Linked DNA regions of Homo sapiens: region 1 is linked to region 2. Evidence: fine-mapped expression QTL. A gene starts in region 2. The other region holds a variant in brackets. All regions are shown on one strand. Distances are between the middles of the regions.

Region 1 (5,371 bases), 79 kb after region 2:
CGCAGCCACAAACCTCAGACAAATAAGCCTTAAAGCCGGGAGGTATTTTAAAAATCTGTCTGTTTGTTTGAATCCCAAGGAAAGACATAACTCTTGGTTTTGTATTAGGAGACGTCACTTTCCCATTTTGTGCAAGCACACTGTTTCTCATAAGTCCTTTGGAGGTCCTTTATTAAATATACACACTCGGCTTCATTTAGTACATTATTTTATACCTCAGAACATGCACACTTCTGGAGTCTGGATTTTGGAAGTTCCTTTAGGTTCTTAGCAATTTGGAACTAGACAGTGATCAGTGACTGTCAAGGAGGAATCTGGGGATGGCTGGCAGTGGGCTGGGTGTGCCAGAATCTCAGTTTGGAGGTGCCTGGAGGTCTGAACATGCATATTCAATATAGCAATAGCAACTTTCTTTTCATAGTATAAGCCACAGAAACTAACATGCAACATATTTTTGGGCATGCAAATAAAAGAGAGCAAGAGAACGTTGTAGGAAGCATTGGGAAGCCCTGCTCTAATTCAGCTCCACAGACTATAAAGACGAAGGGCTCCAAGAGGGCAAGACAATTGTCCAAGGTTACAGCAAGCAGGAGAGCCCGGGTCTCTTGACCGTCATGCCAACCAGGGCTTTTTTCTCTAAGACGTGTTGATAATTTGTCATTTAGATACATTTGAGCACCCAGTATACATTATTTTAATGTTGCATATGTTATTTTATTTAAATTATCCTTAAAACTGTGGCATAGTTTTTATTTTCCTCCCTTTACAGTGGAGGAAATTGGCTTAGAGAGGTTACGCCATTTGCCCACGATCACGCAGCTAGTAAATGGCAGAGCTGAACATCAAATTAATGTCTCTTTAACCCCAGGACCCAGCTCCTTTTCACTATGCAATGAAGCAATCTCTGTCAGGTGCTCCAAAGATGTGCCTTGTCTGTGATTCTTCCCCCGATGTCCCATATGTGACCCCTGCAGCAGGCGCTATCCCATGGCCATGGTGACTTCCTCCTGCCGTCTTTTGCTTGGCTGTATCTCCTTTACCTGTCCTTCAAGTGAAGTCAGGTCCCACCCACCTCTTCCCCAGAGCCTTCTCTGATGCCTTGTTTGCATACTCTTCATTTTCATCTCTCATTTTCAATTAATCGATAACAAATTATTCTAGAATGACTTGAGTCGTGTCGATAAGTAGGCGGTCTGCTCCTTGAGGTTGTAGATCTCTCTTGACTTCTACGTGCAGCCCTGGGTGCATAGCTGGTATCGCTCAGTGCCAGTGACAATGTCCCTTTCCTTCCAGGTATGTGAGACTCTGTGAAGTAGTCGACCACGTTTTCCCGTTGCTGAAAAGAAGCCATTCTTCAGACTTTCCCTGTTCGGATACCTTCAGTAACTTCACCTTTTGGAGAGAGCCACTGCCACCTTTTGAAAACCAGGACATTCATTCTGCCTCAGCGTAAAATGTCCCAAGCAGCCTCTTGCCAGCAGTGCAGAGCCTGGTTGTCACCCATTAAAGGATAGGTCTCCCCGGAGTGCACAGCTCCACCTGGGAGCCTGGCGCGTCATCATTGGCCTGACAGCAGAGAGAATTGAGAAGCATTTCTCCCCTGCCCCACCCCGGGGCTGACATTTCTAAGCAAGATAGGAAGGGAGCACTTTCTAGGCTAGGAGTTGGGTGCATTTGTACCGTGAAAAGCATTCCTCAGTTGTGGCTTAATGCCAGTTACGACGCTGCCTTTCCGGCCTGCTCCAGCAAGTAGCTACTGGTTCACGTGCAGTTTGGGGCTGTGAAACCTAGGCAGAAGGCGGCTGTCTGAGGGCTGTCCCCGCCTAGGACAGGGTCAATCGAGGAATGCCAGATGTGCACGGTTTTTGGCAAAGTAGGGGGCACATTTCCATTATAGCAATGTTAGTGCCACCACCTTCTGAACACAGTGGGGAGGGCTGTGAAGGCTCATGTGACCTGGATCTGAGGTCTCTGATAGAAATCTGGACGCCACCGGGTCCAGGCCTGGCCTCAGACTTGGCCTTGTGGATGGGCCCCTTACAGTATTTGCTGACTAGTCTCATTTTTAGGTGATAAATTTTTCTTTAATTCCTTTGGTTAAAGATAGTCTATTTCATTGGCATATCTCCCCCCAGTTTTTGTGGCTCAAGGCTGGAATATTTATGCCTTAATATATCTATGGCAGACATTTAAGAATGCGCTTTATCTAGCTCATGGTAACTTTGCAACGCCTTAGATTAAAATGACAGTAAATATTACTAAGGCAGTATTTTGAATGAGTTTGACACTGCCGGCTTCCTTCCATCCAGCGAGGTGGTGCTGACAGTGTGGACTTGAGCACACTTATGC[C/T]AAATGATAATGATACTGACTTCTGTTGGGAGCTCTCCAAAGAAACTGGTTGGTTTTAAGAAAATAGTTTCAAGAAGTTCAACTATATTCTTTTAGATATTATGTATTGTTTTACTCTGATTAGGTTACTGTGATAGGCATTTATTCATATTCTTTCTATACCACTGTCATTAATATATTAAAAAGATGTATGTGTTAGACTATCGAAAGGGCCTTATTCTCTCTTTCTCATAGACTGACCTTCTTTTGGAATTTCTGAGTCATTTATTTTCCTTAGCTTTTTCCACTCAAATTAAGGGCAAGCGAAAAAGTAATAATTTGGCATTCTTTAAGCCTACAGAATGTGATTCTTTCACTTGTTTATTACACTGGCTCGTGGACAGAACAATTTGAAAAGTGAAAGAATTATTTTGGTAAAAGATTTTGCTTTACTTTTCGAAGCATTATTTTTTTAAAGAGTGTTTTACTCCAACGATTGAAACATTTTCCTATTTAAATTTCATTGTTAGAATCACAGGAGGCAAAAAATGGAACGGTTGAATGAAATTTTACTCTTTCTGTGAAAGAAAATCCACAGAGTTGTTGCCTCCGTTGTAGTTGGTGGGCCCCGTTAGCATTGGATGCCTTTGCCAAATGGTTCATGTGGACACACAAAGGCAAACAGATCTGCCATCGATCGCAGATTTCTGTAGAAACACGGATGTGCATGTGCAGATTCCCTTTTGCAGGTATTAAAAATAATTAAAAATAGTCCTGCCTGAGGTTGCAGTGAGCCGAGCTTGCACTACTGCACTCCAGCCTGGGTGACAGAGTAAGACTCCATGTCAAAAAAAAAAAAAAAAAAAAAAAAGTCCTGCCTTAACTAACTCCTCTGCGCTTGTTCACTAGTAACCTAAAGAGGCTATATTCATTCTTTATGCAATGAGGGTATTTTTGAGTGAATTTTAACTGCTCTGAACTAAGTATAAGCTCATGGGCCTGCAAAGGTTCAGACGGTTTCTCCTTTGCACCCAGGAGGAACTTTGGCTGCGAGAATGGGGGGATGTATCCCTCATGCAGTTGGCATCCAGGCAGCCCTCTGCAGCAGCACACCCTGCAGGCGGAGTTTTCAGAGGATGCAATTTTGGATCCCGAATTTTGATGTACCTTAAACTTCCACATCACTGCACCCTGAAACAGAGCATGCTTTCCAGAAAGTCACACTCTCAGATCTGTGTCAAGTTCAATGTGAGCCCTGGCAAGGCTGGCATATTAACACCTGCCTTCTGGCTTCTGAAAGTGAGATTTGTATATGGGCTGCACTCACGCATATACGAGTTGGTTTATCTTTGTGTACATGACTATAACCCAGTGATGCTGAGGTCATGTGCTGGAATGCTGTATTTGGACCACACATTTCAAAGTTGCCCTATGGAAATGAATCCTACTTAGTGACAAGTCATCAAATGTTTGTCACATGTGATGAAGACAAATATGTATACCTGGCATAGAGAAAAATATATACCTGGTACATTGGAGAAAAATAATTACACTTTCAAAGAGAATTCCCTTTGCAATTTTATGTTTGGATCACCACTGTAAGCACACTTTATTTGCATTTGATCTGTATTTGTATATGCTGATGCAATGATAAAAATCACTGTAATACTTCATTGTGTTGTACTGGATGCAAAGCTAGAAAATATTGCAATAAATGAGACCGATGAAAGACTTCTCTGAAAATCAGGTGTGTGAATTTTAAATAGTTTTTGGTAAGTTACTAAGTTGTTGACTTTTCTGGGGTGTGTTATCAAGCATATTCTAAAAAAAATCTTCAGGCTATGAATTGTTCACTATTTGGAATAAATGTTTTTCCTGATGTTTTAGATTTAAATGGGTAAAAGACCAGCCTTCTCTATGCACTTGCTGGGGACGGGAGGGATGAAGAAAGAGAGGAGAAGGCTGCACCCGGGATCCCTCCCTGCCCTGGTGGGATGATTCAGGAGTAGGGAGGTTTCAATCAAGTGAATTTCATGAAGTGCCTCCCAGGGCCTGGCCTAGAATTGGTGTTTAGCACATGGGGGTTCCCCAGCCTCACAGCTGCTGTCCTCATTTTTTCGACTCTTCTCTGTGGTAAACCCCAGATTCATTTTTCATTTTGAATGAATCAAAATCCTTGACTAGTGCAATCATATAAGCTGAAAACTGTCATAATTCCTATTGATTTTACATGTCAACGTGGCTGGAAGCTTCCTATTGATTTACCTGCATCAGCCTAAGCGTTTTTGGAATAAATGGAAAAGTATTGGCCCCCTAAATGCAACATAGCCGGCCAGGATACTAGGCCCAATTCCTAATGAAGCCCAAATCCAAACGGTTCATCTCTAGGTGCCTGTAGAATTAATGCTTTTGCATCTTAAAAAACAAAACCTTCTAATTTTGTTGAACACCATCACGGATTTGTTCCAACTCGGACTTCAGTGTGCGGGCTCTTTTATCTATAAAATAAAAATTTGTCTAGACTATTGTCTTTGGCCTGTGGATTCCCACGTGCTGGCGGAGCTCTGCAGGCAGCTCTCACGTGTGCGGGGTAAACGAGCTCGGGGGCTTGGATTTCCCCAGCGTCTCAGCTGTGATCACCTGAATGTTTAAAAGGCTTTACAGCTTGGTTCTCAAACACTGACACATCAGCTCTCTTGCATCGGAAGCCGAGGAAGGTTGACGATGGGGCCATTGACCATCAGCATTGGACCCCAGAGTGCTCTTTCCAGGAAGAGGGAATGCACGTGGCCCTACTACAGCCCTAGAACAGCGGAACTGTCCTGGAGGAAAGTTAAGTCGGCCCCTTCTTAAAAAATTAAAAAGCTGGCTCCTAAAGGCTGGGTGCGTTGGCTCACGCCTGTAATCTCAGCACTTTGGGAGGCCAAGGCAGGTGGATCATCTGAGGCCCAGGAGTTTGAGACCGGCCTGGCCAACATGGTGAAACCCCATCTCTACTAAAAAAAATACAAAAATTAGCTGGGCGTGGTGGCATGTCCCTGTG
Region 2 (5,371 bases):
TCTTCTCATTGCTTGTTTATACAAAAGGCTCCCCCCAACCCTTGGCCTTCCCCGAGGTGGTAGGCTGGGCAGCAGCGGGACCTAATTTGCTCTGAATCCAGCCAGACCCTGCTCATCAGAGCTGACCCTAGCCGTGCTGGGCCCCCCAGCTCATCATTTTCAGAATGAGGGCTTTGAGTTGAATTGTCCTATATTTTCAGACCTCCCATCTCCACATTTGAATAATGGACTTATTTTACACAAAAAATAAACTTAAGTGGCCTGAAGTTGGACTGGCTTCCTGGAAAGCCTTTCCACATAGAGTAGACTTCTTCCCAGGCCAGCTCCTCCCTGGAGGTGGGAGGGGAGGGTGCAGGAGGGCTTCCTTCTGGGGCCTTGCAACCTCAGCAGTTTTGGGCAGCCGTGATGCACTTGAAACTCTGGTCTCTGAGAAAACCCCTGTGGAGGTAGCTCACCTACAAACTGCAAGATTCTCTTTGTGTAGCTCCCACGTCTGCAATGTCAGCATGGGACAGGCTGCCTAGATAGGAGCTGCCCCAAGCCCAGCGGGAGCGTGTCCACACTTGACCAGATGGACGGGAGCCGCGCCCCTGGACAAAGCTCTCCAAGCAGCTGTCCCCAAACATCTATCTCAAGCTTGCTGGCTTATCCAATTCACTAAGCTGCCGCATTCGATGCTGTTTCTAAGCTGGCCTCCTCCCTGGCCCTCTGCATCTCAGCAGAGCAGCGGTTCCATCTCCACACTGAGACTTGCCTTTGAGTATCGCATCACACACCTCCACCGGTTCCATTCATCAGTAAGCCTGTGGGTTTTGCCTCCAAATCTCTCTGAAGTCCTTCCGCTTCTTGCTGAGTAGCCCCTGTAATCTGAGCCACCATCATGTCCCCCGGTTTCCTGCAGTGCCACCTGTCTGCTGGCTTCTACTCCTGCAGTCCATTTTCCATGGAGTGGAGGGGTGACTTTTTAAAGAAGTAAATTAGATCATATAATTCCCAGGTTTAAAATTCTTTTTGGACCAGGCGTGGTGGTTCACACCTGTAATCTCAGCACTTTGGGAAGCCAAGGTGGGAAGACTGCTTGAGCCCAGCAGTTTGAGACCAGCCTGGGCAACATAGGGAGACCTGGTCTCTACAAATAGTTTGAAAAATTAGCTGGGCGTGGTGGCATGCACCTGTGGTCCCAGCTACTTGAGAGGCTGAGGCAGGAGGATTGCCTGAGGCCAGAAGGTGAAGGCTGCAGTGAACCGAGATTGTGCCACTGCACTGTAGCTTGGGTGACAGAGTGGGACCCTGTCTCAAAAAGAATTGGTTTGGAATAACATTTAAATAATACCTAAACTCCTTGCCTTGGCCTACAAGACCTGAATATTTGGCCCCTGCCTTCCCTCCAGCCCACAGCACCGGCCCCAGGACCTTTGCACCTGCCATTTCTGCTCTCCAGAAAGCCCTGCCTCCTCCCCATCTTTGTAGTCATAGGTGTTTCTTGTCATTTAGAGTTTCAGTTCAAATATGACACCCTCCCATTGATGGAAATCATTTCACCACCAGACGTTATGTGGCTCATTGTTTATCCGCTGCCTGCCTCCCGGCTGGAGAGGCGCAGGGAGCTGCCTGTCCCTCCTGTTCAGAGCCACCGTTCCGCACCTGGACCACCGCTTGGCAGAGGCGGGAGTGGAGGCTGTCACCATCAGGATGAAGGACAGGGGTGGCCCGGCGTGGAGAAGCTAAGAAGAGATGGCGATAGGTCAACGCGATTGCGCCTTTAAGGTGGAAGAAACGAAGGGCGAGGGTCAGTAAAGTCAAGGACGGGCTCAGATCCCGCCACTGGTGATAAGCGGGACCCATAGGACCGACGTGATCGCGGCCAGGCCCTGGGTGGTTTACCTGGACTTTTACCTGGCTGCCTTTTCTCTGCACCCCTCCGTCCTCACTCCCCCAGTCATCGGCATAGGTCAAGTCAGAGTGTTGAAGAAACACACGAGTTTGGCTCTGGAAAGGAAAATCAGAAAGGCGGCCTAAGGGGCCCCACCCCCAGGAACGCTAAGATAGGCGGCCAGGGGTGAGCGGGCAGGGCCGGCCAGCAGGCCCTGAAAGCAGCCGGGCCACCAGCGCGTCCCGAGTCCCCCTCGCACCGCCCCGCTTGCCCCGCCCCTGCCCTCTGCCCCCGCCCCTGCCCCGCCCCCGAAGGCGAGCTGCGCTGACAGCCGGCGGCGGGCTGGGTGTTTGCAATACAAAGGCGGCCACGCGCGGCGCCGCTCGGTGAGTAGCCGCCGCCTCCAGCCTCCCGCTGTGGAGCAGGGGCCGCAGCCTCGGGTTAGGCGGGGCGGGGCGCGGCGCCGGGGCGCTGAGGACGCGTGGCGAGGCGGGGGCTCGGCCCCGGGGCCCGAGGACCGACGGCCGGGCTACGTCCCCGGGGCCCTCTACGGGAAGTGGTTCGGGGGAGGGAGGCGGGGAAACAGGCCCCGGAGGCCGGGAGGGCCTCGCGAGCATCCCTCGGGCCTGGCTTTCCTGACGCGCCGCGAGGCCCGGTGTGGGCCCGGCTTGGCTGATCTCGAGCGGCGTAGGGGCCACTGGGGGCTGCCGCGCAGTCCCAGAACCGCGGGGACTAGCTCCAGCCGGCCAGCGCGGGTGCGTCCTGGCTCTGCGCGATCATCCCCAGCTTTGCGCCGGGGACTGGGATGAGAGCCTTTCTTTCCCCCGGAGTTAGGATTCCAGCGCTGCAGTTGAGGAAACTGAGGCTCAGGGAGGTTGACCTCTGTGCCCAAGGTCATACAGTTGCCGGGCGGCAGGGCAGGCTGAGCCCAGGTTGGAATCCCGGTTCTCATATTACAGCTCTCCCCTGCGAGGCCTCTGCACCTTTCTTGCAGCCTAGGAGGTGCTAGGCCTAGTGAGCTCCGTCAGCTGCTCCTGCACGTAATTTTATTATGGGCAAGGCCAGGAAAATGCAGGATGAGAAGTAACGTTTTGGGAGTAACTTAAGTGCTGTGGAGCTAGAGTAGGTAATTTGTGTGGTCAGTAGTTGCTGGAGAAAGCAGATGTCAACCCTGTTTTTGATCAGCAAGCAGGAAACCAACTAAGACAACTGGCAGTATTAATTTGGAGATGTTTTAGAACCCGGCAGTTTCCCACAGGATAGAAGTGTTTTGGGAAATCAAAGCTTGTAGCCGTTTTTTTAATTGGGGGTGTTGTGGTATGGTGGTCTAGGGGTAGTGATTGTGAGATTGACTGTTTATCCTTTGTTCCGTAATTTGGGTCTTATTAATGAAAGTAAGCAGTTGAGGAATGTATAGTATTTGAGAAATAAGCACATCCACACATGAACACTTTTCTTGCTCCCAGATTCTTGTTGAAAGGTGTAACAGTTGGATTTATGATTATATACTTTGATAGCACTTCACGTTTGCCAGCATTTGTTATTGAGTGTTTTTGTGCATGGGTTGTGTGTTTTGGCGCTTATTATTCCTATTTGCATGTGGGGCCCTGTGGTCCTGTGGAGCCAGGCCTGGATATAGCCCTGGACTCGGGTCGGGAGGTCTGGGCTCTGCCTGAGCTCTGTGGGACCCTGAGCGAGTTCTTTCACCCACCCAGGTCTCGCTTATCAGCAGTTCCTTTCTTTTAGAAAAGCACAGGGGGACAAGGGGCGGACCTGCTGAGTCTTGTGGTGTGGGAGAGAACGCGAGGGTTCAGGTGAGAGACCGCAGGGATTCCTGGTTGTAGGGGGGACCTTGGAAGTGACTGAGAAGGAGCCTGCCCTGGATTAGGTGGGGACAATTGGCCTGGCCCAGCCAGAAGGAAGTCTGTGGGTCCTGCTCTCCTGCTCTTTGCGTGGTCAGCTGCACAAAGGGCCCAGAACAGACGGCAGGGGAGGGTCAGGAGATGAAAAGATATTTCAGAAGAAGGTCCTGAGGCCACCGTGGTCTGAGATGCGCCGAGGCCGGCACAGAGCACTGGGCTTTGCAGTTGTTGTTCTGACCACTCACAGATGTAGAACTTGGGCAGAAGACTTCAATCCTCTGAGCCTCAGTTTTCCCATCTGTAAAATGAAGGGATAATCATACCCATTCACAGGATTGTTGCAAAAATTAATTGAGATAAAAAAGAGCCCCTGGAACATAATATGGGGTCCACGAATCATTGTGGTTGTTATGATTTTAAAGTGCCACAGGGTGCCAGCGAGGAGGGGCTCTTTGTGGGGTTGGGACAGTCCTGGCTGACGCCGGCCTCTGCTCTGTAAATCATCCCTGTGGGACACCCCCTCCCCCTGCCTGCCACCTCTCTTCCGGTTGGCTTTTCCGGACCATCTGTGTACTGGGTTCAAGGCCTAAAAGGTACCTAAATGAGGTTAATTGATTTGGGCAAGCCTGCCAATGGGGGTAGTCGAGGGGTACAGGCAGCTTTTTCCTTAGGGTGGGAGGGGGCTGTTGCACGGATGTCGGCAGCTTTTGGAGCATTTTGAGAGACATCCAGGTGTTAGGTCCCGCCAGGACACCGAGGCTGGTGGTTCGACCTGTTTGCACTTGCACTTCCTCACTGGTAGCCCGGGCGTGGGATCTTGGAGCTTTTGAGGGGTCCTGAGGAGGAAGTCCCTGGAATCACCCACTAGCAGCTTTGGGGCTTGTTCCTTGAGAAGGGCAAAGTCACAATTTTGACACTTTATTGAACCCTGGACCAATGTATTGTATAATAAGCCCACTCATTTAAAACTGGAACGGGGTGTGTGGGGAAAAAAGAGTTGGGACAAAACCCAAGCAAAGCCGTTCAGTGACGTCACAGGTTCTTCATTCAGAAGAGGCCCAGGTGCCTATCGGATGGCTGTTTCTGAAATGTTCGCTTTCTGAGCTGTGAGGGAGGGTCTGGAGAGAGAGAGGGGCCCATGCCTGTGTGTCGAGGGGACACACCCACACTGGCCCTGCTCCTTGATCAGAGGATGCACCAGCGCCTGAAGGGAATCTGTGCCCCCTAGGAGGCCACACTGGGCCCTGGGGCTGCTGGGGTCCGAAGCAAGTGCCCTGACCTCCCTTCCTGTGGGTTCCCTTCCTCTTCCTCTTTCCACAGCTTTCCCCTGTCTGTCTCCCTACCTGTAATTCACCCCAACAAGCCCTTAGCAGCTGGGGTTGGGGTGGGGTCTGTGCAGCCAGGGATATGTTGAGTAGTGAGTTTCTGCCTGTAGAAAGCTCTGGGTCTGGGCTGACCCAGACCCAGGCTGACACTTTTCACAATGAGGTATGTGGCCCAGGAGTCTTAAAACCTCAGCAGTGTCTGGCCCACAGGCTGTTCTGCACACTGAGGGATGCAGGGCGCGTTGTGCCGCTCCCACTCCCAGCTGAGAGGTTGGGAGGAACCAGATGGACTGGGCTCCATCAGGAGAGAA

Evidence for each region. PIP is the estimated chance that this variant, and not a neighbour inherited with it, causes the effect.
Region 1: its variant is fine-mapped to the expression of LPIN1 in whole blood (INTERVAL, PIP above 0.99).

What each region holds. Positions count from the first base shown.
Region 1 is chr2:11,823,339-11,828,709 of GRCh38, forward strand. LPIN1 (lipin 1) reads left to right here. Exons shown (of 21, transcript NM_001349206.2): 21 at 1,294-4,071. The coding sequence ends at 1,453. Among named protein-coding and RNA genes, the nearest start is that of MIR4262, 11 kb to the right of the region's middle. RefSeq lists an enhancer at 4,346-4,455. The variant C/T (reference allele first, on the strand shown) is at 2,350.
Region 2 is chr2:11,744,413-11,749,783 of GRCh38, forward strand. It overlaps LPIN1 (lipin 1), which reads left to right and starts at 2,220. Exons shown (of 21, transcript NM_001349206.2): 1 at 2,220-2,259. It overlaps LOC124907735 (a long non-coding RNA gene), which reads right to left and starts at 1,047. Exons shown (of 2, transcript XR_007086220.1): 1 at 1-1,047. RefSeq lists enhancers at 387-960, 3,472-4,143, 4,916-5,175, 5,196-5,245 and a silencer at 1,899-2,468.